2 separate regions of the Homo sapiens genome follow, and region 1 is linked to region 2. The links come from fine-mapping of genetic effects on gene expression. A gene starts in region 2. The other region holds a variant in brackets. All regions are shown on one strand. Distances are from middle to middle. Region 1 holds the start of MYOCOS (myocilin opposite strand). Region 2 holds the start of MYOC (myocilin).

What was found. PIP is the estimated chance that this variant, and not a neighbour inherited with it, causes the effect.
Region 1: its variant is fine-mapped to the expression of MYOC in lung (TOPMed, PIP 0.93).

Annotation. Positions count from the first base shown.
Region 1 is chr1:171,620,471-171,635,791 of GRCh38, forward strand. MYOCOS (myocilin opposite strand) reads left to right here and starts at 1,773. Exons shown (of 3, transcript NM_001391940.1): 1 at 1,773-1,862; 2 at 3,371-3,508; 3 at 5,984-6,418. The coding sequence starts at 3,414. The coding sequence ends at 6,131. MYOC (myocilin) reads right to left here. Exons shown (of 3, transcript NM_000261.2): 3 at 14,947-15,321. RefSeq lists a silencer at 765-965. The variant G/A (reference allele first, on the strand shown) is at 8,653.
Region 2 is chr1:171,647,675-171,662,995 of GRCh38, forward strand. MYOC (myocilin) reads right to left here and starts at 5,014. Exons shown (of 3, transcript NM_000261.2): 1 at 4,334-5,014. The coding sequence starts at 4,937.

The DNA.
Region 1 (15,321 bases), 27 kb before region 2:
AGATATTTTTCTTCCAGACCCTCCCAATCCTAAAGAGATTAACTGAGATCTGAATAGGAAACATTTGTCATCTATTGTCTCTAAGGGCAGCCACTATAAGACTTTGAAAGAACTTTGGCCTCCACCATCTTTTATCTTAACCTGAACATTCCCTTTCCATCAATCCCAGGTCCTTAGAAAACTCAACCAATTGTAAAAAAGAAAAATTTTAAATTCACCTGTAGCCTGGAAGCTCCCCCTCCACTGCACTTTGAGTTGTCCTGTCTTTCTGGGCAAACCAATGTATTTCTTTCTTTTTCTTTCTTTTTTTTTTTTTTTTTGAGACGGAGTCTCGTTCTGTTGCCAAGCTGGAGTGCAGTGGCGATCTTGGCTCACTGCAACCTCTGACTCCCGGGTTCAAGCGATTCTCCTGCCTCAGCCTCCCGAGTAGCTGGGATTACAGGCGAGTGCCACCACGCCGGGCTAATTTTTGTATTTTTAGTAGAGACGGGGTTTCACCTTGTTGGCCAGGATGGTCTCGATCTCCTGACCTCGTGATCTGCCCGCCTCGGCCTCCCAAAGTGCTGGGATTACAGGCACGAGCCACCGTGCCCGGCCTACCAATGTATTTCTTAAATGTATTTGACTGATGTCTCATGCCTCTCTAAAATGTATAAAACCAAGCTGCACCCCGACCAACTTGGGCACGTGTTCTCAGGACCTCCTGAGGGCTTTGTCACAGGTCATGGTCACTCATATTTGGTTCAGAATCTCTTCAAATATTTTACAGAGTTTGACTGTTTTCGTTGACAAAGGGAAATAGCTGTATTTATCTACGTATATATAGACCTTGTGTAGACCTTGTTTTTAATCCCAGCTTCATTACACCTTATCTTCCCAAGCAGCAAATTTCTTCTATGGTGGGTTTTTTTTTTTTTTTTTTTGAGACGTAGTCTCACTCTGTCAACCAGGCTAGAGTGCAGTGGCGCGATCTCGGCTCACTGCAAGCTCCGCCTCCCGGGTTCACGCCATTCTCCTGCCTCAGCCTCCTGAGTAGCTGGGACTACAGGCACCCGCCACCACGCCTGGCTAATTTTTTGTATTTTTAGTAGAGACGGGGTTTCGCCGTGTTAGCCAGGATGGTCTCAATCTCCTGACCTCGTGATCCGCCCGCCTCGGCCTCCTAAAGTGTTGGGATTGCAGGCATGAGCCACCGCGCCTGGCCTCTGTTGTGGTTTTATTATCATGTAAAGAAATAGACTGCCGCCTTGAATTCCTGGCCTCAGCCTGGTGGGAGGATCACTTGAGGCCAGGAGTTCAAGGCAGCAGTGAGCTATGATCTCACCACTGCACTTCAGCCTGGGTGACAGAGTGAGACCCTGTCTCAATAATTACAATAGTAATAATACATTTTAAAAATTAAAAAAATGCAAGAAAGGCAAAATTAAGGATTGTTTGCAAACATTTTCTCAACCCTCACAACTGCCCTAGAAGATACTATTACTCCTCTTTTACAAGTAAGAAAACCAAGGCTTCTAGAGGTTAAATTACTTGCCCGAGATCACTCAGATCAAAAGTGGGAGTTGCACAATCAACTCCTTTAATTTCAGAGCTGAAACACCTGCCAGCATAGAAGAAGTGCTGTGAATTATCAGGAAGAGGTGGGATCAGTGATTATTGATGGCACTGGGAGGAGGGGCGTACGTGAATTAGCTTTTTAAAAAGTAGTCAATAAAGAGACTAGGTCACAATGTGTTTACTAGCATCTGAGATAGCGCTTCCCCATTGCTCACATGACAGAAAGCTCTTCCCCTGCTCTGCCCCCAAGACCCATCCTCTCCCTGCGACATCTGTGGAGATTTCTCAAGGACACGGCTCCAGGGGTAATTTGTTTCAGCTGCTGCTTTCTAAGGGCGCAAATCAATCTTATTAACCCAAGTTCCTGAGAGAGACTGACTACAGGAGGTTAAAAGACTAAAGGGGAGGAAGTTGACGTTGGTGGTCCTTTTTTCGCCTTTTCTCTTTTCAAAGAGATGAAGTAGCTGGTATGTGGGTACAGAGTATGTCATAAGGATATTTCTTAGCAAATCCATGAGTTGGTGCGTAAAAGCAGTTATATGCTAAGCTGACCTGGGACTAAAAGGTAAGTCAGTTGGGCATCCTTATAAGAACAAACCTTTCCAGCCAAAAGATCAAGCTGGCGAGCTCTGGCTGTTGCAACTCATGCTCTAGAATGGCAGTCACCACGTGAGTGTGACCTGGTGTCTAGGAATGGGAATTACTCTAATTCCTCTTCTGTTTCTTGGGAGATGACTTGGCTCTGTAATGGAGATAATATAGTCTTTGAAGTCAAACAGACCTAGCTTCAAATTCTAGCTCTGTGACTCCTGAAAAGCTACCTAATTTCTCTACTGCTCAGTTTCCCCATTCGTTGAATGAGGATCATAATACTTACCATGTGGGTTTACGGTGGTTATCAAATAAGATGAAGCAAAAGGGCCAGGCATGGTGGCTCATGCCTGCAATCCCAGCACTTTGGAAGGCCAAGGAGGGCAGATTTCTTGAGCTCATGAGTTTGAGACCAACCTGAGCAACATGGTGAAACCCCATCTCTACAAAAAATACAAAAATTAGCTGGGCATGGTGGCATGCACCTGTAGTCTCAGCTACTTGGGAGGCTGAGACTGCAGTGAACCGAGACAGCTCTGCTACACTCCAGCCTTGGTGACAGAGCCAGACCCTGTTTCAAAAAGAAAAGGGGGTGGGGGGCAACAAAGTAAAAGGACATCCCAAGGTGACCGGCAGTAAATGGGTGGCCGCTATCTCTGTTATCAAAATCAACCCTCCAGTCTCTATGCCATGTGCATATCTGGACAAGTAGCATGGCTCCCAGCTGCAGCCTTATTTATGTCCCTTTCCTGTTCTTTAAGGGGTAAGTGTTCCAGGAAGAAAGCTTTGCACATGTCAGTGAGGTCAAACAGCCCTGTGAGAAAAGGGCTCCTCTGGAATGGCGCCATTAGAGAGGAACCAGCATGAGACAGGGCTGCCGTGCAACCTGGGGAGATTCAGTTCACCTATCTGTGCCTCCATTCCCTCAGTGTTATCTGGGGGTAATGATAGCTGCCCACTGCATGATTGGAATAATCACATTTGTTCTATATAAACAACCAACAAGTACTTTACTCTTAGCCGCCCACTCCTCATAATAGGTATTTGAGGAAATATCTGCCTCTTGACCTTGGGGGGAAGGGGGATGAAGGCCAGGCTGTAGGGAGGACCAACTGAGAGTAAGGCAGTGAATGTTCTCTGCAAACTGCGCCATTCTGGACCTAGCTGGAGCATTCCTGACCCCTGAAGCATGTGTGCCAGCTCTTGTGTTTTGCATTCACAGGTGCAGTAACTTTAAATTCCTCAAATCCCCTGAGTGCAAGGCCATGGCTCAGAAAAGCCTTGCAAACAACAGCATTAATCTCCCCTACAAGGACTTGACCTCCGAGGTAACCAGGCGCCGAGTCACCATGATCACAAGGTACCCAAAATCTTTCCTCTGGATCGCTTGTGGGGTTGGGACGGAGCATAACACTGAGCCCCAGCAAGTGCCTGAAACTGTAGCTGGCACTGGTTTATTTAAATGTATTTAATGCTGCTGCAAGACACATTTCACAGAAAAGGAAACTGCTTTGTCATCCATTGTGGAAAACAGACTTTTCCCACATGGCCCTTCAAGGGGTGATGACACCCATTTGTGTATGTTCACTGCGTGGGTGGTCGTGGCTCTTGATAGAGAGTGGGGAGTGGGGATCACTTTGTTTGGTTTGGTTTTGTTTTTTTGAGACAGGGTCTCGCTCTGTCACCTGGGCTGGAGTTCAGTGGTGCAATCACAGCTCACTGTAGCCTCAGCCTCAAGCTCCTGGGGCTTAAGCAATCCTCCCACCTCAGCCTCCCAAGTAGCTGGGACTACAGCCATGTGCCACCACGTCTGGTTAATTATTATTATTATTATTATTATTATATTGAGACGGAGTCTCTCTCTGTCGCCCAGGCTGGAGCAATCTTGGCTCACTGCAAGCTCCGCCTCCCGGGTTCACGGCATTCTCCCACCTCAGCCTTCTGAGTAGCTGGGACCACAGGCGCCCGCCACGACGCCCGGCTAATATTTTGTGTGTGTGTGTGTTTTTTTTTAGTAGAGACGGGGTTTCACCATTCACAGGATGGTCTAAATCTCCTGACCTTGTGATCTGCCCGCCTCGGCCTCCCAAAGTGCTGGGATTACAGGCGTGAGCGACTGTGCCCGGCCAGTTTTTTTGTATTTTTAATAGAAACAGGGTTTTGCCATGTTGCCCAGGCTGGTCTCAAACTCCTGGGCTCAAGTGGTCCACCTGCCTCAGCATCCCAAGGTGCTGGGATTACAGATGAGAGCCACTGTGCCTGGCCCAAGATGACACCTCTAGCTTGAGCTCTTTGTCGGGTATGTTATGAGATTAAAAATAATAATCTTACTAAATCTGATAAGAAGTTGGTCAAAAAAATCAAAATTATTGATTTGAAATAGAAAATACAGACTTCCATCTAATGTTGTTTACAATGCCCTTTGACCTTAGAGTTTATTGGGATGTAAGATTCCAGCAAATTGATAGGAATTAGGTGCCATTTCTTAGTTACCATATATGGGAATGTCAAATCTTTGTTGATAGTGGTGCACAGCCAATTTGATACCACGGGTTTAGACCGTGAGAGTGGGCATTGTCTGCAGGAAGTGTGGTCCCTGTGCTCTAATGTCCATCCAAGGACGAGATGGCATAATTCTGTGGCCTGTCCTAGCCACCAAACAATTCCCTTCCCATCATCCCACATCCTCTCAGCAACATTAGGGATCAGCTTTGATTGGGAGATGGGAGCAGTGAACTTGTGGCCAGATTGAAATTTAAATTTGGATTCCAGTTCTGCCTTCTACTGGTCACATGATCTGGGTAATCACCTTCTGTCTCAGCTTGCTCAGCTGAAAGATTTAATGTGGGGGCTGAGATTCTACATGTGGTTAGTTTCTAGGTAATTTCTAGTCCCTGGAACATAGTAAATGTTCAGGGAACAATTAAATCTGAACCTGTAAAAGCTTGACAGGCTAGTCCTATGCCCTTGAAGGCAAGGTTTGCCCAGCCCTGAGGAGGATGGGGAGACTCTGGTATACTCCAGCAGAAGGGGAGGCGAACCCCACAGCCTGGGGATGGGGGCAAGTTAGGCCAAAGGGAGCTGTGAAGTGAAACTGAGGCTGGACTGGCCCTGTGAATAGCTGGAATGCAAATGAAACGTTTAGACACAGCCTGTCCCAGGCTGAAATGTACAGAGAGCTGGCCAGTAGGGGATGGAGAAAGCTAATTGATGGGAAGAACTACTGCTCTAATCCTAAGATACCCTTGGAGGATGGGGATGGAGGAGTGAGGGTGCAGACTCTAACTCTGTTGGGTCCATGGCACCAACGGGGACAGCTGAGCTCACTCTGAGGAGAGCTGACTGACAATTAAAGTATATCTCATTTCTGCAAGGTGAGTATGGGTGGAGGAGCTTGGAAAGATGTCCTCTGAAATGTTAACTATTCTTTTTAGATGCTGGCATCTGGGGTATTTCTTTTGTTCCTTCTTTTTTGTTGTTTTGAGACAGGGTCTCACTCTGTCACCCAAGCTAGCGTGCAGTGGTGCAATCATAGCTCACTGTAGCCTCGATCTCCCAGGCTCAAGTGATCCTCCCACCTTGGCCTCCCAAGTAGCTGGGACCACAGGTGCATGCTACCATGCCTGGCTAATTTTTATTTTCTTGTGGAAAGGGGGTCTCCCTATGTTGTCCAGGCTGGTCTTGAACTCCTGGGCTCAAGTGATCCTTCCACCTCAGCCTCCCAAAGTGCTGGGATTACAGGCATGAACCACCATGCCCAGTCTGTTTCCTTTTCCTCTGTTTATTTAAAACCCTATCTTTATTCAAATGGCATTCAATGTGCCTTTCTTCCTAGAAAAGAGATAATTACCCAGAAAAGTGATGAAGCTAAGGAGATGCTCTCCCACTTGGATTTGGAGCAAGCCCCTCCCCCTCACAGGACCTACCTCACAGTACCTCCTGCCCCACCTCCTTCTCCAGCTGAGGATCCCACGGTCTCCTAAGATGTAAAACTTATTTTGAAGTGAATTCTTACACAGAACTCCAGAAAACAGTTTCAGTGGCATTCTTGAGGTTTGTCTTAGAAGACTCTTGAAGATCTTTGTTCTTTCCTATTTTTCTTCACCTAGAACCACCATAGAGCATGGTTTACCCTTGCTAATAGACTTAGTCATTTTTGGTTTTTTAATCCAAGTCTCTGATATGATATGCATATATTTTGATCTTTATGTTATGCTATAGAACTGTTGCTGTAGTCAGTTGTATTTAAATTAATAAACAGTTATCAGGCCTTGTTGTTTATTACTAAATCTGAATCAGTGAAAAGTCTAGGCCTTTTAAAGTCTAGAGTTTAAAGATCTCAGGTCCTGGGAACCCTGAGGTAGCTGGATTTTCAAAACGCAACCTGAGACACTACAGTTGTGTGGCCCTATATTTTGGAGCTGCATTCCCATGCCGTGTGCTGGGGCTAAGGTGGTTGAGTTTCACATTTATTGACAGTGTTTTTAAAGTTTGTTTCTGGGAGATTTGAAGTGATTTTCAAACTCTGTAACAGAAAACTCTACCCTGAAAAGCAGCCAAGTGTAGAGTGGTTCTGTTGTGGAGAAGTCCATTGCTTGAGTCCTCTCCAAGCTCCTTGACGGGCCCCAGTGCACCTCTAAGGACTTCCGGGGCTCTTCTGAATTGTTCGAAGGCATCAAAAATGTGATAATTCTGGCATACATATACATATAAAAAATATCCCCACATGTCATCCTTTATTTCGTCTGCTGCTTCTTAGAGTCCTTGTAGGTGTTCTGTCTCCAGGCCTGCCCTTGTAAATGTGCTCGGCTCCCCTATGAGAAAGGAGTCAAAGCTTCTGTACACCATTGTGGAGTCAGGGTAAACACTCTGTGATCTCCCCTGATCCCATGCATTTAATAAAACCAATGTTCCTTCTTTAAAAGTAAAAAGTGCTCCGGTTCTTCTACCCCCATAGTAGTTGGCTGTGCCATTGGTGTGGAAGTCGGACTCCTTACCTGTGGCCTTCAGCAGCATGGGGCAGGGAAGGAGCCTGCACTGAGTGTCTGCCATTGCCAGCTGGATGCTGGACATACACATCTCCCTCTCCTCAGTCTGGTGAAGAATGGGCCTGCGCTGTCCAATAGGACAACCACTGGCCACTTGTGACTATTTCAATTTAAATTCATTAAAAATGAAATAAATTCAGTTCTTCAGTCATGCTAGTCATATTTCAAGTGCTTAGTAGATTTGTGCAGCCAGTGGCTACCCTATGGGATGTTGCAGTTGTAGAATGTGACTGCCATTAAAGATAATTCTATGAGGCCGGGCATGGTGGCTCACCCCTGTAATCCCAGCACTCTGGGAGGCAGAGGTGGGTGGATCACCTGAGGTCAGGAGTTTGAGACCAGCCTGGCCAACATGGAGAAACGCTGTCTCTACTAAAAATATAAAAATTAGCTGGGTGTGGTGGTGTACACCTGTGATCCTAGCTACTTGGGAGGCTGAGGCAGGAGAATCGCTTGAACTCGGGAGGCGGAAGTTGTGGTGAACTGAGATTGCACCCTGTGCTTCAGCCTAGGCAACAGAGTGAGACTCCATCTCAAAAAAAAAAAAATAAATAAATTCCATTAAACAGTGATGGGGCAGAGGTTAAACATGTCCAAGGACACACCGCCAGTTAGAAATAGAATCAAAGAGAGGTCAGGCTGGGAAAGAATAATTCTTGTGTTTTACTTCCATTTGGTTTCTGAACACATTCTAGGATGTTCTCTCTGTTCCTTTGTTCAGCAAATGTTGAGTACCCACTATGTAAGCACGGCACTGTTCTAGGGATATATCACTGTACAAAACAATCAATCCCTACCCCATGGAGTTTACATTCCAATGGGGAAAGACTAACAAAAAACATACACAATGTAAGTCCAGGTGCAGTGGCTCACCCCTCTAGTCCCAGTGCTATGGGAGGCCAAGGTGGGCAGATCACTTCAGCTCAGGAGTTTGAGACCAGCCTGGACAATGTAGCAACCTCATATCTACAAAAACATACAAAAAAAATTTAGCTGGGCGTGGTGGTGGGCTCCTGTAGTCCCAGCTACTTGGGAGGCTGAGGTGCAAGGATCACTTGAGCCTGGGAGGTGGAGGTTGCCATAAGCTGAGATTATGCCACTGCACTTCAGCCTGGGTGACAGAGTGAGACCCTCTCTCAAAAACAAAACAAATACACAATGAAAAAACAGTGAATTATACATCAGGAGGCGATGAGTATAATGGAAAAGATGTGTTAAAGCAGTGAAACAGGGTAAGGGAGATTAGAAGTGCAGGTTGGTTGTAGTGTTAAACAGGGTGGTCTGGGTAGGTGTATGACTCCATTTTAATGCCACTGATAAAGGCATACCCGAGACTGGGAAGAATAAGAGGTTTCATTGGACTTACAGTTCTACATGATTCTGAGGGGAGTCCTCAGAATCATGGCGGAGTGTAAAAGGCACCTCTTACATGGTGGCAGCAAGAGAAAATGAGGAA[G/A]ATGCAAAAGCAGAAACCCCTAATAAAACCATCAGATCTCATGAGACTTATTCACTACCATGAGAACAGTATGAGGGAAGCTGTCCCCGTGATTCAAATTATCTCTCACCAGGTTCCTCCCACAATATGTGGGAATTATGGGAATATAATTCAAGTTGAGATTTGGGTGAGGACACAACCAAAACATATCGTTCCATCCCTGGCCCCTCAAAATCTCATGTCCTCACATTTCAAAATTAATAATGCCTTCCCAGCAGTCCCCCAAAGTCTTAACTCATTTCAGCATTAACCTAAAAGTCCATGGTCCAAAGTCTCATCTGAGACAAGGCAAGTCCCTTCCACCTATGAGTCTGTAAAATCAAAAGCAAGCTAGTTACTTCCTGGATACAGGAGGGTACAGGTATTTTGTAAATACAGCCATTCCAAATAAGAGAAACTGGCCAAAACAAAGGGGTTACAGGGCCCATGCAAGTCTGAAATCCAGCTGGGCAGTTCAAATTTTAAAGCTCCAAAATGATCTCCTTTGACTCCAGGTCTGTAGGACCTCTTTAGGAAGGTGGCATTTGAGCAAAGACTTGAAGCCAGTGATGAAGTTAGGTGTGTGGACATTTGGGACAGAGGGAAGAACTAGTGCAAAGGTTCAAAGGTAGAAGTGTGCCTGGTGCATTCAAGGAGAGCGAGGAAGCTTGAGTAGAGTGGATCAGGGACATTTGTGGGATGAAGGCACAGTGGTGGAGGAAGGAGGCCGACGATGTGGGGTTTTGTAAGAACTCTGACTTTGACTTTGAATGAGATGGGAAGCAGAAGCCATAGAGGTTTTCAGAAAAAGAGGCATGATCTGGCTTGTGTTTTAATGGGATTGTTCTGGCTACAGTGTTGAGAGTAGGCTGCATGGGTAGAGGGAACAGAAGCAGGTCATCTGCTATTGTAGTAATCCAGGAACAAGACGATAGTCATTTAGACCGATTACAGTTGTAGTGATGAGAAATATGGGAAGATTCTGGATCTACGTGTTTGAAGATGAAACCTACAAAAGCTGCTGATGCATTGGATATGGGGTATGATAGACAGGCGGGTAAAGGATAACTCTAAGATTTTTGGCCCAAGCAACTAGAGGGATTGAGTTTCCTCAGCCAAAAGAAGAGCAGATTTACCTGGGTGCAATGGTTCATGCTTGTGGAGGCTGAGGCAGGAGGATTGTTTGAGGCCAGGAGTTTGAGACCAGCCTCATCAACATAGGGAGACCCTGTCTCTACAAAAAACAAAAACAAAAAAAAACCAAGCACAGTGGCTCAAACCTGTAGTCCCACCTACTTGGGAGGTTCAAGCTGCTTCTTGCTTGAGCCCAGGAGTTTGAGGCTACAGTGAGCTGTAATTTGCCACTGCCCTCCAGCCTGGGTGATAGAGTGAGACCTTGTCTCAAAAAAAATAAAAATAAAAGAGCAGATTTGGTGTGTCTGATGAAGAAAGAGAAGGTCAGATGTTCAACCTGCTAGTTTGACATGCCTAATAGACATCTAAATGGAGATGCCAAGGGGGCAGGTGATATATGAATCTGGAGTTCAGGAGTAATGACTAGGTTGGAGATATAAACATGAGGTTCATTAGCATATGTGAGTTGGAATTTAAAGCCCTGATATTAGATGAGATGCCCAAAGGAGTAAGTAGATAAGAAGAGACCCTAAACTGAGCCCTGGGGTGCTTCAATCTTAAGAGGGAGCTAGCCTGTAATCTCAGCACTTTGGGAGGCTGAGGCAGGTGGATTGCCTGAGGTCAGGAGTTCAAGACTAGCCTGACCAACCTGGTGAAACTCCGTCTCTACTAAAAATACAAAAATTAGCTGGGCATGGTGGCAGGCGCCTGTAATCCCAGCTACTCGGGAGGCTGAGGCAGGAGAATCGGTTGAAACTGGGAGGCAGAGGTTGCAGTGAGCTGAGATCATGCCATCGCATTCCAGTCCGGGCAACAAGAGCGAGACTTCATCTCAAAAAAAATAAAAAGTAAAAAGAGGTCGGGATTAAAGGGCGGAACCAGCAAAAGAAACAAAGAAGGAACAGTCAAAGATGGAGGAGGAGTCTAACATTCTGAAAGCTTCATGAAGGAAAAGTTTTTCTTCCCTTTGTTTCTTCTTCCTCCACCCTCTTCTTCCATCCCAAAGCCTGATGCAGCAGGTTATGGAGAGAAAGAACAGGAGCCATGGGGAGGGCTGCACAAACAGGATTGGCTCATCTCAGCATCTCAGTTACTTTCCACCTTCCACTTTTCATTCAAACACCTGGCAGGTAGAGGTGCTTAGTAGGATGAATGAGCTCATGCATTCCGATTTCTGGGCTTTTCAGTTTTTAAGAGTCAGCTGTCAGTGGGGGAGAGTGGTTGACACCCAGATGTTATGGGCTGAATGGTGTCCCCACCCCCAAATTCATATCTGAAAGTCCTAATCCTAATACTTTGTTTTTAACTTTTAGTTTTTTTAGACAGAGTCTTGCTCTGTTGCCCAGGCTGGAGTGTGGTGGCATGATCTCGGCTCACTGCAGCCTTCGCCTCCCAGGTTCAAGCGATTCTCCTGCCTCAGCCTGTCAAGTAGCTGGGATTACAGGTGTGCACTACCACACCCGGCTAATTTTTATATTTTTAGTAGAGACGGGGTTTCACTACGTTGCCAGGCTGGTCTTGAACCCCTGACCTCAAGTGATCCTCCTGCCTTGGCCCCCCAAAGTACTGGGACTACAGGTATGAGCCACCACACCTAGCCCTAATCCTAATACTTTAGAATGTAACTGTCTTTGGAGATAAGGCCTTCAAAGAGGTGATTAAGCTAAGCTTAGGTCATTAGGGTGAAAAAGAGGAGATCGGGACACAGACATGTACAGAGGGAAGATAATGTGAAGATGTAGAGAACAGCCATCCATCTATAAGCCAAGGAGAGAGGCCTCAGGAGAACCAACCCTGCTGACACCTTGATCTTGGACTTCCAGCCTCCAGAATTGTAAGAAAATTAATTTCTGTTGTTTAAGCTATGAAAGGAAAATAAATCTTGGGGTCCCAAAATCACTAAGCTAAAGGGAAAAGTCAAGCTGGAAACTACTTAGGGTAAACCTGCCTCCCATTCTATTCAAAGTCACCCCTCTGCTCACCGAGATAAATGCATATCTGATTGTCTCTTTTGGAGAGGCTAATCAGAAACTCAGAAGAATGCAACTGTTTGTCTCTCACCTACCCGTGACCTGGAAGCCCCCTCCCTACTTGAGTTGTCCCACCTTTTGGACAGAACCAATGTACATCTTACATATATTGATTGGTGTCTCATGTCTCCCTAAAATGTATAAAACCAAGCTGTGCCCCAACCACCTTGGACACATGTCATTAGGACCTCCTGAGGCTCTGTCACGGTGCCCTCAACCTTGGCAAAATAAACTTTCTAAATTAACTGAGACTTGTCTCAGCTCTTTGGGGTTCACAAAGCCACTCTGTCAGTGGTATTTGTTATGGGAGTTCAAGTATATTAATACACCAGTGGAGAGCCATTTTGAGATCTCATCCTCTCCCTTCTCACTCATGGCATGTGTAATCTTAATGAGAATAAACTCCCAGGGGAAAAGAAAAGTCAGGCTTGGTATGGTGGCTCACGCCTGCAATCCCAGCACTTTGGGCTGCTGAGGCCAGCAGATTACCTGAGGTCAGGAGTTTGAGACCAGCCTGGCCAACATGGTGAAACCCCTGTCTCTGCCAAAAATACGAAAATTAGTTAGGCATGGTGGCACATTCCTGTAATCCCAGCTACATGGGAGGCTGAGGCAGGAGAATCAATTGAACCCCGGAGGCGGAGGTTGCAGTGAGCCGAGATAGCACCACTGCACTCCAGCCTGGGTGACAGAGTGAGACTCTGTCTCAAAAAAAAAAAAAAAAAAAGTCAGATTTTTCGCTTTGCTTTCCAAAGTATAGTCTTTAGAACTCAGGATAGGAAGAATTGTCTTAAAGCCAAGGCTTTGACTTTTAAGAGCTGATTCTCTTGGAAATCAAAAGGCTGAGCTCTGGTCCCATGAACAACAACCTGAGAAGATAGGTGAAGAGTATTCCATCTCTACAGTCTGAATAAAGTCTGGAAGAATAAGGGAACTTCAGAGAGAGAAAGAGAGCTTAGAAATTAGCCAGGCCTGGTGGTGGGCGCCTGTAATCCCAGCTACTCGGGAGGCTGAGGCAGGAGAATCGTTTGAACCCAGGAGGCAGAGGTTGCAGTGAGCCGAGATAGCACCACTGCACTCCAGCCTGGGTGACAAAGCAAGACTCTGCCTCAGAAAAAAAAGAGAGAGAAAAAACTTAGATTCTGGAGGTTTCCTGATAGGACTTCATGTACCAGATAGGTTGGGGCAAGAGAAAGCAGAGGAGACTTGTGCTCATTTCCAGGTGAAGCCTATGGGGTGGCAGACTTCTAGGAGAAGTGGCCCTGACCCAGCAGGGGCACAGCAGGAGAGCAAAAGGGAACCTGTGTTCCTACCCTGCAGGACAGCTCCCACTGTGTCCTCATATCCTTGGTGGTACACACAACAGGCTGGAAAAAAGCTGCCTTGGCCAGGCATGGTGGCTCACGCCTGTAATCCCAGCACTTTGGGAGGCTGAGGAAGGTGGATCATGAGGTCAGGAGTTTGAGACCAGCCTGACCACCATGGTGAAACCCCTGTCTCTAGTAAAAATACAAAAATTAGCAGGGCGTGGTGGTAGGTGCCTGTAATCCCAGCTACTCAAGAGGCTGAGGCAGGAGAATCGCTTGAACCCGGGAGGCAGAGGTTGCCACAAGCTGAGATCATGCCACTGCACTCTAGCCTGGGTGACAAAGTGAGACTCCTCAAAAAAAAAAAGGCTGCCTCATGGGTCTGGCCATTGGAACTCAGAGGACCCCAAATCTGTAACTGGATACAGAGATGTGGATGCCAGCAGCAAAGCTGGAATCTGCCTGATGGCTAAAATCAGGTGTGAGACACTCTGCCTGGGTTCTTCCCCCTGAGTGCCAGTGCGCCCTCAATCTCACTTGTCTCAAGCATAGATGCCACCTCAAAGACATGGGGAGAGGAAAAGCCTGAATTGGCTGACAACACATTGATGTGATGGAATCCAAGCTGAACTGGCAAATGAAGTGTTCTACCATTAGGTACAATGGCAACTGAAGAGGGAAATTAAGTTTGTTATTAAAAAATAATGCAGCTAGGTGTGGTGGCTCATGCCTGTAATCCCAGCACTCTGGAGGCCGAGATGGGAGGATTACTTGAGGCCAGGAGTTTGAGACAAGTTGGTCAACATAGTACAATCCTGTCTCTACAAAAAAATTTAGAAAATAATAATATTGCTATAAGGGCTGAGGATAATGGAGTTATTAATGGGTGTATTAATAACCGTAAAGTCACCGCACTAGCCCTGACTTTTCTTTTCCCCTGGTACATTAATAACTTGAGTTATTAATGTTCTGGAGATGATGGTCGTGATGGTTGCCCAATAATATGAATGTGTTTAACACTACTGAACTGTGCCTTTATAAATCCTGGGATGGTAAATTTTGTTATATTTTACTGCAGTTTTAAGAGTTGGAAGAACAAAACTATGCTATAAGCTTTCTCCACCTGAGGTTGTGGCTTATAAAATTCATACCCCTGATGACAGATAAAAACTGAAGTGGAGGGGCTGGGCGTGGTGGCTCACGCCTGTAATCCCAGCACTTTGGGAGGCCAAGGTGGGTGGATGACAAGGTCAGGAGATCGAGACCATCCTGGCTAACATGGTGAAACCCCATCTTCACTGGAAAAAAAAAAAATTAGCCAGGCGTGGTGGCAGGCGCCTGTAGTCCCAGCTACTTGGGAGGCTGAGGCAGGAGAATGGTGTGAACCTGGGAGGCGGAACTTGCAGTGAGCCGAGATCGTGCCACTGCACTCCAGCCTGGGTGACAGAGCGAGACTCCATCTCAAAAAAAAAAAAAAAAAAAAAAAAAAATCAAAAGCAAACTGAAGTGGAGTTAGGGTGAATAGAGGGTGGGTTCAGGGGAGAGATGGAAAGATTGCTCCGGTAGTGCCGAGAGCACCAGGAGATGGAGGTGGGAAAGTGTGGATGCTGCTATTTGCTTGGCGTCATCCTGGGCAGCACCTCAAAACCAGGCACAAGCCTCTCAGTTACACACACACACACACACACACACACCACCTTTAACATCCTGCAATCACATCTCCCAACCTGAAGGAATTACCTGATGGTTGGAATCTATATCCTTCTCTTAAGCAAAGATTCCCACAAAGTTCAAGGAAGAGAACGTTGGGTAAGAAAATTTTATTTCACAATGTAAAGGGTTATGTGAGACCCAACTGTATTCTATCTGAAGCATTAGAAGCCAACTGTAGTAAATGCATCTTACTTATATTCGATGCTGGCCAGAGGAGCTATTCTGCTTCCTTTAGAAGTTATGCTTTTTATTGTGGCTTGTGGTAACCATGTAACATGCAAGAGCAATGGTTTTCAGGAAGAAACTATTATGCCTTACAGCTTTTGCCCCAAATCACAAGAAAACTTGAACTATGTCATTAAACATCCCATAAATGCTGACAGAAGATAAAGGATATTTATTATATGAAATTGTCTACGCCCTCAGACTACAATTCCTGAATAGTTAGATGGTGACCATGTTCATCC
Region 2 (15,321 bases):
AGGGATTCTCATCCCCATCCTATTCTAGGTGAGGAAAGGGAATCTGCAGCACTTGTGTTGAACACCTCAGGTTTCTCCCCTCACCCTCCCCTCACATCCTGCCCACTTTTTTGCAGTCATTGCTGAGGCAACCTGCCTCTTGCAGTTATCACCTGCGGGGACCTCGCCTCAGCCACCGTGGCCCAGCTTCTCTGACTTTCTGCATAGAAAGTCTACAAGAACAGGCCAGGCGCCGTGGCTCATGCCTGTAATCCCAGCACTTTGGGAGGTCAAGATGGGTGGATACTTGAGGTCAGGAGTTCAAGACCAGCCTGGCCAACATGGTGAAACCCTGTCTGTACTGGAAAAAAAAAAAAATACAAAAGTTAGCTGGGCGTGGTAGTGTGCACCTGTAATCCCAGCTACTCGGGAGGCTGAGGCAGGAGAATTGCTTGAACCCAGGAGGCGGAGGTTGCAGTGAGCCAAGATCGTGCCACCGCACTCCAGCCTGGGGGACAGAGAAAGACTCCATCTTAAAAAAAAAAAAAAAATCAGTCTGCAAGAACAAACCTCGTCCCCACATCTGAGTATCAGGGAAGCGCAATATACTCCATGGGATAGCCCTTGGCCAAGAGGGTATCAGATCCATGCGTAAACCTCCCCTCTTCTGTTGCAGTCTACACAGCCCCTCTGAAGGGCTTGATGGGATTGAGCCTCCATTGCCCACTGTGGTGACTAGCTGGAGAAGGCCCCCATTTTGTGGCTTTCCTGCCTTCCCTGTCTCACTTTCCCCTGTCTCAACTTCTCTTCTCTAGGATCATGGTCCATATAAACCAACTGCACACAAGCCCTCTTCCAGGCTCTGTTCAACAGGAGACCAGTCCAAAGCAGGGGCTAAATAACAAACAAAGCAGTCCTTCTCTTGTGACAGTAATAACCAACTCTAATTTATCTTCTAGTAAATTATATATGTATTTTATTATATATATAATAAATTTATATATATAATTATATATATTTATATGTATTATATGTAATATATATATTTTTTTGAGATGGAGTCTCGCTCTGTCACCCAGGCTGGAGTGCAGTAGCGTGATCTTGGCTCACTGCAACGTCTGCCTCCCAGGTTCAAGCGATTCTCCTGCCTCAGCCTCTGGAGTAACTGGATTACAGGTGCCCGCCACCACACCCGGCTAATTTTTGTATTTTTAGTAGAGACAAGTTTTCACCACAGTGGCCAGGCTGGTCTTAAACTCCTGACCTCAAGTGATCTGTCCACCTCGGCCTCCCAAAGTGCTAAGGTTACAGGTGTGAGCCACCACACTTGGCTAATTGTATTTTTTTTCTACTTTTCAAAAACTATTATATATACATAAAATTTATATATGTATATATATGAAAATTTATATAAGCCCAGAGAAGAAAAAGTTATATATAACTTTGTAGTAATAGTTATGTAGTAAAATATGTCATATTATGTGTATGTATAAACAAGTGATTTCTATGATTATAAGGAATTTTTTTCTACATAACAACTATTAATACATGATCAAGAAAGTGGTGGTAACAATTTGAGTTGCAGGTGGAATACAGAAAGGCTGCCTTCTCAGGCCTTACCTTTGTCCACTCAGCCTCACTAAGCTTCTCTACCCAAACCTTCACACCTAGTTCTTGCCACTCCTGCAAAAAAGCATACCTAGACTTATATTCCAGCCTCCAGAATGCCCCCTTTTCCCTAGATCTGGCCTTGAAACAGATCTTTTGTTCCAAGCATTCCTGTACCTTTCTGTCTTTTACCTTTAGGGTCTATAAACCAGAGGTCAGCTGAAGGTCTTGAAAGTCAATGAACCTCATGGCCATGTACAGGGAGGGCTCACACCTGTAATCCCAGTGCTTTGGAAGGCCGAGGTCGGCAGATCACCTGAGGTCAGGAGTTCGAGACTAGCCTGACCAACATGGTGAAACCCTGTCTCTACTAAAAATACAAAATTAGCCGGGCATGGTGGCACATGCCTATAATCCCAGCTACTCAGGAGGCTGAGGTAGGAGAATTGCTTGAACCCGGGAGGCAGAGGTTTCAGTGAGCCAAGATCGTGCCATTACACTCTAGCCTGGGCAACAAGAGTGAAACTCTGTCTCAAAAAAAAAGAAAGAAAGTCACTGAACTTCAGAGGAAGAGGCCAGAATTCGAGCTTTGCCACTAACTGGTAGATGGCCATGGACAAGCTGAATAACCTCTCTGGGCCTCAGTTTCCATATCTGCAAAAATCAGCCAGCGGTACCGGATGCTCATTAGGTCCCTTTCCAGTTCCACATTCTTGTACTAATGTAATTTCCTGCTCATGAAAAACATCTACTACTAGAAAAGAACTTCCATGTTTGGTGTTCAATATAATGGGATGTTGCCCTTATTTCAAAAGTGGAGTAGCTGGAAAGATCAAGAAAAAATATAAAATTAGGAAACACATCTAATAAATCCCCAAAGACTTGTTAAATGACCACAAAAGAAAAAAAAAGGCAAAACATTGCCACTATTTTTGTACACACACACACACACCACCCACACCCACATACACACATGCAGGAGTTTTTATTGAGAATGTAACTTCATTCAACAGTCTGAAATAAGTAATGCCTCATCACACTTCTGGTAATGATGATTCTTTCAATTGTCTCCACAGATTCAAGTCTCAAGCTCTACCACTGACCAGCTGGGCAACCTTGGCCCCTTAGCATCTTAGGACTTCACTTTCCTTGGTTGTAAAATTCAGAATTGGATCTCTTCTAATTCTAACAATCTAAACATTTTTTAAAAATCCTTTACATCTTATAGGTATTTCATGTGAACCCCACAAAAATTATTCACAGCAGGAATTTTCTTTGTTATGTTATGGACAAGAAATGAAGATGCAGAGGGTTCAATAACTTGCCCAAGGTCATCCCCAGGCTCTGGCTCTTAGGTTTTCTAACCCCATAGCTATGAAGAGCTTGCCTTTCACGTAGAAGGCTCTTTTTAGGAAATATTTTCTCATAATTTTAAAGCTTTTCAAGCCTATAGAAAAACTGAAAGAATAGTACAATAAGCTCCCCATATACTTAGATTCACCAGTTTGTAATTCACCAGTTATTAATATTTTGCCACAGTTGTTTTACCTTTCTTTCTCTCATTATCTATATATTTGCAGTCTTTCTTCAACCATTTGAGAGCAAATTGCAGACATCCTGACGCCTCACCCTGGGTACTTAAGCATGTATCTCCATAGAACAAAGATTTTATCCTTCGCAACCACAGTATCATTATCTCACCAAGAAACTGAACATTAATACAGTAACATAATAATGAGCAGTCAAATTGCCTCAGTTATCCCAAACCTGTTCCTCATAGCCTTTTTCCCCCTTGGATGAAGACACCAATCAAGACTCATGCACTACATTTGGTTAACACATTTCTTTAGTCTCTTTAATATAGAACAAGCCCTTCCCCACCCCTTTTTTCTTTCTTCCTTGGCACTGACATCTTTGACCAGTCCAAACTAATTGTCCAACAACTGGATTTGCTTGCTTATTTCCTCATGATTAGAACACTTCCTCAACAGGGAATATTTGGGAGCCCACTTTCACAAAAAGTGACACAAATACCATCTTCCCAGCTAATAAGAAGACCTCCCCCAACACCTCACCCCCGCACCCCCCCCACACACACACAGACTCACCTTTAGGCAAGAAGGGACCAGGATGAACAGAAGAGCCTCTCAGAAAAAGCCATCTCAAGAATTTGTCTGATGACTTAAAAGCAGAGGTTCTCAGATTGGACTGAGTAAGAAAACTTTCAGAACAACATATTAAGAAAACTGACAGAGAGGTGCCATCTCTTTATTTTGCCAGGGAAGAACATTTAAAAATAAACAAAAACTTACCACTTATTATCATTTCCCAAATCTATTGTAATTTCATAAATAAAGGTCATTTTAACATCAAAAGGTACAAATAACAATCTGAGCAAAGGTTCAAAAAAGGATAGTTTTTCAAAAGGGACAATTGACAACTTTCTACTGCTCATATGCAGACACATCTCACCCGGTCCTTTTATTTCTCCTTTTGCTATGGACTGTGAAAACTGACATGGAGGGGCACAAGAACTCTGAACCACTAATCTAAATGAAGCTCTCAGGAGCTAAATTACTAGTAATACTTGAAGGTGATCGCTGTGCTTTCCTTAATTCATCTGTCTTGTGCTAGCTGTGCAGTCTCTAGGAGAAAGGGCAGGCAGGGAGGCCTGGAGCGCCTGTAGCAGGTCACTACGAGCCATATCACCTGCTGAACTCAGAGTCCCCCCACTCTGCATTCTTACCTTCTCTGGAGCCTGGTGGCACAGCCCGAGCAGTGTCTCGGGTCTGGGGACACTGGCCCCTTCTCAGCCTTGCTACCTCCTGGCTGCTGCTTTCCAACCTCCTGGCCAGATTCTCATTTTCTTGCCTTAGTCGCTTCTTCTCTTCCTCCAGAACTGACTTGTCTCGGAGGAGGTTGCTGTAGGCAGTCTCCAACTCTCTGGTTTGGGTTTCCAGCTGGTCCCGCTCCCGCCTCAGGGTGCCCAGCTCCCTCTGCAGCCCCTCCTGGGTCTCCTGGGGCCTGGCAGCCTGGTCCAAGGTCAATTGGTGGAGGAGGCTCTCCAGGGAGCTGAGTCGAGCTTTGGTGGCCTCCAGGTCTAAGCGTTGGGTGCTGCTGTCTCTCTGTAAGTTATGGATGACTGACATGGCCTGGCTCTGCTCTGGGCAGCTGGATTCATTGGGACTGGCCACACTGAAGGTATACTGGCATCGGCCACTCTGGTCATTGGCCTTCCTGAGCTGAGCTGTCCTGGCCCCCACATCCCACACCAGGCAGGCCAGAAGCAGCAGCTGGACAGCTGGCATCTCAGGCCCAAAGCTGCAGCAACGTGCACAGAAGAACCTCATTGCAGAGGCTTGGTGAGGCTTCCTCTGGAAAGCTCTGCTGTGCTGAGAGGTGCCTGGATGGGTGGCCTTGCTGGCTCATGCCCGAGCTCCAGAGAGGTTTATATATACTGGGGAGCCAGCCCTTCATGGGGGAAGACAGAGGTGGCCACGTGAGGCTGGGTGGGGCTGTGCACAGGGGGGTTGCCTTCACGCTGCCAGCAAGATTCTTAGAAAATAACCTTCCAGAAGTCTGTTTGGAGTTTCTTTTTAAAAAGAACATCCCAATTTATGCACCCATACCCCAATAATAGTTCCTATATCTCCACCTGGTTTTACACACACACACACACACACACACACGTACACACACTTACACCAGGACTACTGGTGTGCTGATTTCAACAAGGATATATTTCTAGTTTATATTTCCATTCACTCTGCAAACTCATTGAGAACCTGCACTGTGCCAGGCACTATGCTAGGAACTGGAGATCCAAACAAGTCCTTTAAGACGTAGCAGGGACAGAGAAAAATAACAGCCAGCCAGAACACAAGGACAGCACCCTACCAGGCTCCAGGGAGAGCATTCCTATAGAAGCGGCAGATTTCCCCCCTCACCCCTAGCTTTAAAACAACTGTGTATCTTTGGGAGAACTTTCTAATTTCAGTCTTGCATCTCAGGCACCAATGTCAATGTTAGCCTCTAAATCAGTTCTTACTCTGTGTGTGTGCATGCCAAGAACCTCATTGGTGAAATCTGGGGAACTCTTCTCAGAAAGATGTTTTCAAATATATAAAATATAGATTACAAAGGAAACAAATGATAATGAAATATGATTATCAAAATATCAAAATTTTAAACATGTTTTATTAATATGTTAAAAACAAGATCCAGCAGGAGGTCTAATTTCAAAGTAGTTTTGAGTATAAATATTTCACTTACAACGTATCTGCAACAACTGTAATATAGTATAAAATGTCTGTGATTTCTATTGGTAATGACAAAATCACAGGTACTGTTATTACCACTTTGAGTTTATGGCTCTATTCGCAATGGAATAAAATGTTAAATTTAGTTAGAAGGTGGTAAAAACAAAAATGTAATTTTTTCCTCATTCAAATTCACAGGCTTTCTGGACTGTAGGTTAATAATCCCTGCTTTACATTAATAAACCCAAAGAGAAAAAACAAAAAGCAAATGGCAATAGCCAATAAATATACCAAAACTGTCAGAAGTAACTTTAAGCCACTTGAAATAATGATTGCCTTTGAGCAACTTTATGTTGTTAATACCAACAACAGTGTCAATACTTGTGAAGTAAATATTTCCAAACTGCCCTGGCAGACTCACCTCCAGAGTGGAGAAACACAGTTTGCTCTAAAGATTCTATTCTTATTTGATTGGTTCTGCAGTTAAGCCTGAACTTGAGACATTTACAAATGGGTGTTTGTTTACAGCTGACCAAAGGGTACTAGTCTCATTTTCTGAATCAGATAGTAAACATCGCTGAAATGATTTTTCAAAAAACCAATCATATAGTCAGCAAGACCTAGGCTTGAATCTGTTTGGCTTTACTCTTAGGAATGTTTTCTTCCTGTTAAAAGAAACGGGATTGCCCTTGTGCTGCTAACTCCACAGAGAAAAAGAGTTCCTAATAAGGAGAAACTAAGTAATCTTACAGCCTCAGTTACTACCTTGTGACTTGCTCAGAATTACTCAGCTTGTAAAGGAAAAATATAGTATTAGAAATCAGGTCTCCCGACTTCCCTTGAACTGATTTTTTCCCCCCACAATATAGCCCTGCCTCCTAGAACCCAGGATCACGTGGACTATAATCCCTGTGGTCAATTCCCACTGCCCTTGAATGAATCTGTCTTTCTTGCTCATACACTATCCCTCTCTTTTTCTTCTCCTCCCCTGCGCTGCAGGTCACTCCGTGCTGTCAGCAGTCACTGCTGAGCTGCGTGGGGTGCTGGTCAGGGTGAAAAGTTTAACAATCTCTGGCATTTTCCACTTGCTCTGGCCCAGTTTTTGAATGCCAGGCAAAAGCTACCACCAGTTAGTCTCTGCATTCTTTTTGGTTATTGGCAAATGCCATTGTCTATGCTTAGGGAAGGAAAATGTGGCTGTTGGGTTCATTGAGCTTTCCTGAAGCATTGTGGCTCTCGGTCCTGGAGTCTGACGTGATCAGTGAGGACTGATGGAGCACCCAGCTTCTGCCTGCCTTCCTGTCCCCCTCCACCTCCCCTGTGGCTCAGCTGCTCCAGCTCTGCCTCCTTCCCCTCTCAACATCCCCCCTCACAGAGAATCACAGGGAAGTGTTCACAGAACACGAGAGCTGCAAGGGTCTTTATAGCAGAGAAGACTATGGCCCAGGGAAGGAGAGACACTTGCCCACGGTCGCACAGCCAACCAATGGCAGAACCAGAAAGAAAACCGAGTCTCCTGATTCCAAGGTTTTCGACCGTCTTGCATAAGCCAAGTCCACCACAGGGCTGAGTAGTTGCCCAGAAGACATGAAAGAAAAGACTCCAGTCACTTCTTCCGTGAATTAACGGCCTAGGAAATGAGCTCGCTTCCTATATTCCCATTAAATAAAGGCCTTCGTGAAGGAAAACCCATGCACACCCTGGAATTTTAACAGCTGACTTTATGAAACTGCATCCCTTCATGAAATAGACTTCTTCTCCTCCAAGCAGAGAAAAGATAAAAAGGCTCACAGGAAGCAACGGAAAACTCCCAGCCCCGTGAACAACACTGAACATCTGGGCAGCTTCAGCCTTGCCCTTTTCACCTTCCTGCCTTTCAGCACCCGCTCAGCCCCAGCGTCCCCACTCCCTGCAGTCCCCACCTCCTGGAATTCTCCTGGACGTGGAGGCCCCTTTCCCTCTGAGGAAACACTGTCCCCTCCAGATTCTCCGTTAGACTAGTTTCCCTCTCCATTTCCTTTCTGGAGCCTGGAGCCAAGGAGTCTCCAGCTCAGATGCACCAGGACGATTCACGGGAAGCGAGGCAGGCCAGCTGCAGCGCTGTGACTGATGGAGGAGGAGGCTTGGAAGACTCGGGCTTGGGGGCCTCCGGGCACGATGGAGGCAGCAGGGGGCGCTAGGGAGGTGGCCTTGTTAAGGGATGCTGCGCACAATTCTTCAAGATGGTGTTTATTTCCTTTCTTTCAGCACTGGGTTTAAGTTGGCTGGCTATTAATTTTCTTCTGCACGTCTTCCATGAGAAACTGTCACCTCCACGAAGGTAGGGCAGTGACTGCTTTGCTCACCATTTTGTCTCTGGTGTCTGGCAGATATAAGTACTCAATAAATTGTCAATGAATGCCTGGATGAATGAACGAGTCACACAGAAATAGAAAGCAACAGGTCCCTAGAGAGTGATAACAAAACAACCAGTGGCACGGGCTGGCAGGTTGCTCAGGACACCCAGGACCCCGGGTGCTTGCAGGGCTCCCCCAGCTGGAGAGGAAACCTCTGCCGGGGGCTTCAAGGAGTCTCTGGGGTATGCCCTCCTCCCCTATACACACACACAGATGGCCCCAAATGGAACTAGTTTATGTATACTCTTATTTCAGTAACGATGTGGAGGCTTACCACAAAAGCATGGTGAATAAAATGGTAACTTAGCCTGAAAATGAGGATGAGGGAAGAAAGTGATGAGGACCAGTGGTCTGGGACTAGGCAGGCAGCTCATGGCACCATTCCCCATCCCAAGAATCCCTGAAATTATCACAGCTTTTGTCTGTTTCCCTGTTGGTTTAGTAAACCATTCAAGTTATTCCTTATTAAACACTGACCCTTGGCCGGGCGCGGTGACTCATGCCTGTAATCCCAGCACTTTAGGAGGCTGAGGTGGGTGGATCACCTGAGGTCAGGAGTTCAAGACCAGCCGGGCTAATATGGTGAAACCCCATCTCTACTAACAATACAAAAATTAGCCGGGCGTGCGCCTGTAGTCCCAGCTACGCGGGAGGCTGAGACAGGAGAATTGCTTGAACCTGGGAGGCAGAGGTTGCAGTGAGCTCAGGTGTAGAGCATACAGGTAGGTGTAAGACACAGACCCTCACCCTCACGGAGCTTCTGGCTGTAACATCGTGATGCAGAAGTCTAGAGTGGGGAGACTTCCTGTGGAGCGGGATGGGCTGCACAGGGGAGGTGGCATTTGTAATGGGACCTACTGAGATGACACGTTAACAATGGTTGAGGCACTTGGGTTGTAGATGTGGTTGTAGGTCAGACACATCGGGCCTGTGTGTGAGGGCTATGACAGATCATTCTGAAAAAGTTAGGATGGGGACACAGTGATTTCTAATGATTTCTGACCTATCCGGAGCTGGGACACGTTATCCTTGTATGCCTGACTTTATAAAATTGGGACCCATGTCTAAACTGATTATGCATCGCATATTTGTTTTATACTTAAAATGGTTAAAATTCATGATCTTTCAAGAGTTTCTTAAGATTCCTTAAGAAAACTGGCCTTCCTAAAGGCAAATGCCTCAGGGTCCCTGCTGAGGGGCACTGCTGCTTTGAAGGCTCACAATGTTCTGGTTGCCTTTTAACCATGTCTTTTGTTTTGCTCTCAGTTTTTCATATTTCCCTTGAAAGTCCAGGCTTAGCCCAGTCAATTTTTGTGTTCCCTGGTATAGACGGGGAGGTGTTGCGAACATGGTCAACTGCCTAATCACTGTTATGAAAGCTTTCCCAGTCCCCATTTTCCTCCTGCATTTGCGGAATTTTGATTTTGCTGTTATTGTTATGTCCTTTGCTAACATGACCTTCCTGAACTTGCCTCCCCAGAGTGATGCCATCTGGTTTTTAAAATAATAATCCACTTTGGGATCTGATCAGATCATGCTTTTGACGTTTTTCCCATTTTCCCATCAAGCTCACATGGAGGTCTCTTCCCAAGGAACAAATACTTAATTACCAATTTGGAAACATCTTTTTTCTGAGCTGTTTTCCTTATTCATTGATTTTGGTCCTCATCATTTTTTCCTGAAATTAAAAACAAAGGGAAAAGTTTATTTTTCATCATTATTTGCTCTCCTGGCATTTTTCCTTGGGCAAGTGCCCATCTCATTCCTGTTTCTTAGCTCCTGTTTGATGGATTTACCATATTGGATGTGATGTTTCCTGAAGAATAGCTTCTGTCAGGAGCAACATCTGTCACTAAAATAAGAGCAGACACAGCCTGGACACTTGGCTAACGTGGATACTCCTTCTTCCTGATTCTTTATCATCCTGCCAAAGACATACATCCGAATGGAGGCTATACAGTTTATAGGACTTTCACATTGGTTATCTCATTTCATTTCATAATAGCCCTGAGGTAAACTGAACAAAGATCAGAATTCTTCCTTTACAAGTGGAGAAACTGTGGATCAGAATAATTAACTGATTTATTTAAGGTCACATAGATAGTCCATATAGCTATGTGTATGTGTGTGTGTGTGTGTGTGTGTGTGTGTGTGTGTGTGTATAGATATATACACAAACTATATATCTCTCTCTATATACATACGCACATATATACTATATATATGAATATACATATATATATATATATATATATATATATAGAGAGAGAGAGAGAGAGAGAGAGAGAGAGAGAGAGAGAGACAGAGACAGAGACAGAGAGTCAGTCAACCTAAAATGAGCTACAGAGTGACCAACTCCCCAAAACAAAGAGTTTATTCAGGAATAGCAAGGGATTGCGATTCAGGATATGTGTGCTGTGGCAAACCCCAGGTGCATCTGAGGGGTTTGGGCAAGGGCAAGATTTTAAAGGCAAAAAGGAGAAGTCCACATAAACTGTTTTGAAACAAATACTATTGGTTACAGGGACTTATTGCAGGTGGTGACGTTTGTTCATTGGTGGTACTGGCTATGGCTACGAAAGGGTCTTCATAGAAGTGGCTTAACAGGAAAGTTCAGTTGGAAAAGTCTTTTGTCACAGTTCCTGTTATAGGGTATATATGTGTGAGGGCCTTTTGACTCTATTTTCTTGGCCTGTTGACTCTATTTTGTTTTTTGGTTGTTTGTTTGTTTTTTTGAGACGGAGTCTTGCTCTTTCGCCCAGGCTGGAGTGCAGTGGTGCGATCTCAGCTCACTGCAAGCCGCCTCCCAGGTTCACACCATTCTCCTGCCTCAGCCTCCCAAGTAGCTGGGACTACAGGTGCCCGCCAGCATGCCTGGCTAATTTTTTGTATTTTTAGTAGAGACGGGGTTTCATCGTGTTAGCCAGGATGGTCTCGATCTCCTGACCTCGTGATCCACCTGCCTCAGCCTCCCAAAGTGCTGGGATTACAGGCGTGAGCCACCGCGCCAGGCCTCTTGACTCTATTTTGTTAGGATTTGATATAGGTGACTCCATTTTGGTACTGACAATTTTCCCAGTAACTATATATATAGCCGATCATATAGCTGAAATACAGCCTTCTAATGCCATCTAATTTCTAAATATTATGCTGTTGTAGGAAAGCCCTCAAGTATGAACTTTAGGCCGGGCGTGGTGGCTCACGCCTGTAATCCCAGCACTTTGGGAGGCCAAGGTGAGTGGATCACCTGAGGTCAGGAGTTTGAGACCAGCCTGACCAACATGGTGAAACCCTGTCTTTAGTAAAAATACAAAAATTAGCTGGGCGTGGTGACGTGCACCTATAATGCCAGCTACTTGGGAGGCTGAGGCAGGAGAATCATTTGAACCTGGGAGGCGGAGGTTGCAGTGAGCCAAGATTGTGCCACTGTACTCCAGCCTTGGTGGCAGAGCAAGACTCCCATCTAAAAAAAAAAAAAAAAAAAAATAGAATGAACTTTAGACCGGGCGTGGTGGCTCATGCCTGTGATCCTAGCACTCTGGGAGGTCAAGGCAGGCAGATCACCTGAAGTCAGGAGTTTGAGAGCAGCCTGGCCAACATGGCAAAACCCCAACTCTACTAAAAATACAAAAATTAGCCAGACATGGTGGCGGGTGCCTGTAATCCCAACTACTCAGGAGGCTGAGGCAGGAGAATCATTTGAACCCAGGAGGTGGAGGTTGCAGAGAGCCAAGATGGCACCACTGCACTCCAGCCTGGGCGACAGAATGAGACTCCGTCTCAAAAAAAAAAAAAAAAAATTTATGGAGGCTCTTCAGATATTTTTCTTTCACCCAATCTATTTACTAGCAACTTGAGGACTAGATTTGCCCAAACATATGCAGGACATCTGCCTTGGGCTTGCCCTGTGGTGTGGGATTATGTGTCCTATGCTGTACAGGACCAGAGTGGAAACCATGAGCAGCTGTGGGGAGACCCGGTGCTAGTGGAGTCTTGGGCCAACCTGAGGGCAGCTACAGACTCATTCTGAGTCTTTGTGAAGGCTGCTGGCAGTAATCTCCTTTAGGTGCAGCACAGAGCTTCTCCCACCTTACTTCCAAGGTACAGAGTTTCTTTAGGGAAATGTTTCAAGTTTCTTTAGAGAAATGGGAAAGAGTGTGACGGGGGAGGGGGCTTTAGTCCACTGTTGCATTACTATAAAGAAATGCCTGAGGCTGGATAATTTATAAAGAAAAGAGGTTTAATTGGCTCACAGTTCTGTAGGCTGCACAGGAAGCACAGCGCCAGCCTCTGCTTCTGGGGAGGCCTCAGGAGGCTTACACTCATGGCAGAAGGCAAAGAGGGAGCAGGAATCTCACATGGCAGGAGCAGGAGTGAGAGAGAGAGTGGGTTGGGGGGAGGTGCCACACACTTTAAATGACCAGATCATGTGAGAACTCACTATCCCTAAGAGCACCAAGCCATGAGGGATCCACACCCATGACCCAAACACCTCCTTGTGTAATATAGTAAGTATTCTCCAAAACCAAAACAGAAACTGGCCTTTCAAAAAAGGTCAAGTCCACTATTTTCCCTGTCTCTTAGGAGCTGCAGAGTCTCACTCATCATGGTTCTTGTTGACAAGAAAATCCATACTCTATAAAATATTTGAAGAGATTTATTCTGAGCCAAATGTGAGTACCATGACCCATGACACGGCCTCAAGAGGTCCTGAGAACATTTGCCCAAGGTAGTTGGGTAACAGATTGGTTTTATACATTTTAGGGAGATAGAAGACATCAATCTATACGTGTGAGGTACACACTGGGTTGGCTTTCAGGTCGTAGGTAGAGTTAAAAGATTTCCTGATTGGCAATTAGTTAAAAGAGTTAAGCTTTCCCTAAAGTTGAAGTCAGCAGAAAGAAATACTTGGGGTTAAGATAAGGGGGGTTGTGGAAGCCAAGGTTCTTGTTATAGATGAAGCCTCCAGGTAGCAGGCTTAAGAGATAATGGATAATAAATATCTCTTTTCAGACCTTAAATGGTGCCAGATTTAGTTAATCTCTTTGGGGTTGAGAGGGCCTGGAAGGGCAAATACCTAGTTACATTAATTGAGATTCTTTACAGATGCAAATAGTCATTTCAAAATATGGGAAAGAAACATATTTTGGGGTAAAATATTTTGATTTCCTTCTTTATTGGTCATGTGATGCTATACTAGAGTCAGGTTGGATTTTGGTATCTTATTGTTAAAGAAAGAGTTCATTTGGTCGGTCTTAAGATCTGTTTTAATGTTGGTCAATTGTGTCTAAATTCTAAAGGGAGGAGGGTATAATAAAGCATGTCTGACTCTCCTTCCTGTGGTCTGAACTAGTTTTTCAGGTTTCTTTGGAATCCGCGTGGTCCCATTCAGCCAGTTGTGGGGCTTAGAATTTTATTTTTGGTTTACAGAATGTTTCTCGGCATCAACTTCATTCTCCTCTTCACCAATATCTAGCTGCTGACTTCAGCTGTAGTCCCTGATGGCTGCCCCAGCCCTGAGCCTACCTCCCCGCATGTGACCTTTCAGCTCATTTCCTCTGTTAACTGACCCAGCCTCTGTGTTTCCCAAACCCCTTCTTAGAAGAGAGCTGATTGGCTGAGCTCCTTCTTTCAAGTGACCATACCAGCAGGAAGTTGTCCAGTAGGCAACTGAAGCACTGGCCTGGGACAGAAACTCAACTTTGATGCATGAAATTATGTTTTATGGAGGGGGATGAGGGCCTGTTTAGAGCAGAAAGATCTATGGGCAAAGAAGAATCCCTTAGAAGGAGATGTGGGTAGGCAAAGGATAATCAGCAATTGTAGTTCAGTGCCTAAAAGTAATCTGTTCCTCACTATGTTTAGTCGGTATGTTTCTTACCATGGAGGTAAAAAGTGTGGGACATTCAATAACATGCTTGGGCCTTCTGTGTGCCTGACACTGTGCTAGGCATGGAAAAGATATTTCCAAGGTCGTTGGTAAAGGTTGTGGGGTGAAAAGAGCTAAAGGGAAGATGGAGACAACTTCCTGATGACTTGGGCTTCGCTTCTCACTCACATATAGGAAAAATAATAGTGTACATGGTGACCATATAGCAATAGCATAGGTAAAATAGGCTTTTATGGGTTTTTTTTCTGGGATTCTCCTTACCATTTACACTTTTCTATGAGAAAATAGTTCTCATGGCTTGTGTCAAAAAAGAAAAATATACTTCTTTCTTAAATGCACTCAAAGACTATATTTGCAGGGGCCGATGGGAGAAGAAAAGATGAACAGTCGTTCCGTTTGGGCAGGTGTTAGAGCCTGGAGCCTTTATTGCCCAGGTCATGCGTGAATATACATTTTTTTCTTTTTCTTTTCTTTTTTTTTTTTTTTTGAGACAGACTTTCACTCGTGTTGCCCAGGCTGGAGTACAATGGTGCTATTTCGGCTCACTGCAACCTCTGCCTCCCAAGTTCAAGTGATTATCCTGCCTCAGCCTCCCAAGTAGCTGGGATTACAGGCATACACCACTATGTCTGGCTAGTTTTGTATTTTTAGTAGAGATAGGGTTTCTCCGGCTGGTTTTGAACCCCTGACCTCGGGTAATCCACCCACCTCGGCCTCCCAAAGTGCTGGGATTACAGGCATGAGCCACCATGTCCGGCCGTAAATTTTTTCAATTGATACATATTAAAAGCCTAACAGGTACTCCAGAGGGGTTCTGTAAAATATTTTGATGTTTACAATAGCTTCTCATACATTAAAAGTTTATAAATTACTGACCAAGCATAATCCACTTGCTATCTTTGGTATGGAATCAAGACTATTTTCAATCTATCATTATTTAAGTGGTCAGTACTCAGTGGAGGGGTAGTCAGAGGCTCAGAGAGTGCCATGTCGAAGAGTAATATGTTGGAAAGTGTCCCTAGCCAGAAATGTGGACTGGTTTTGGGAGTGTGAAGACATACAAGCAAAACCTTTTGGCTTTTGGAAAAGTTCACAAATAGATAAAATATTGCTTTACCTTATTGAATAGTCTTTTGTTCCTAAAACATATGTTCACATGTGAAGACACATATAATATCCATCATTCTTT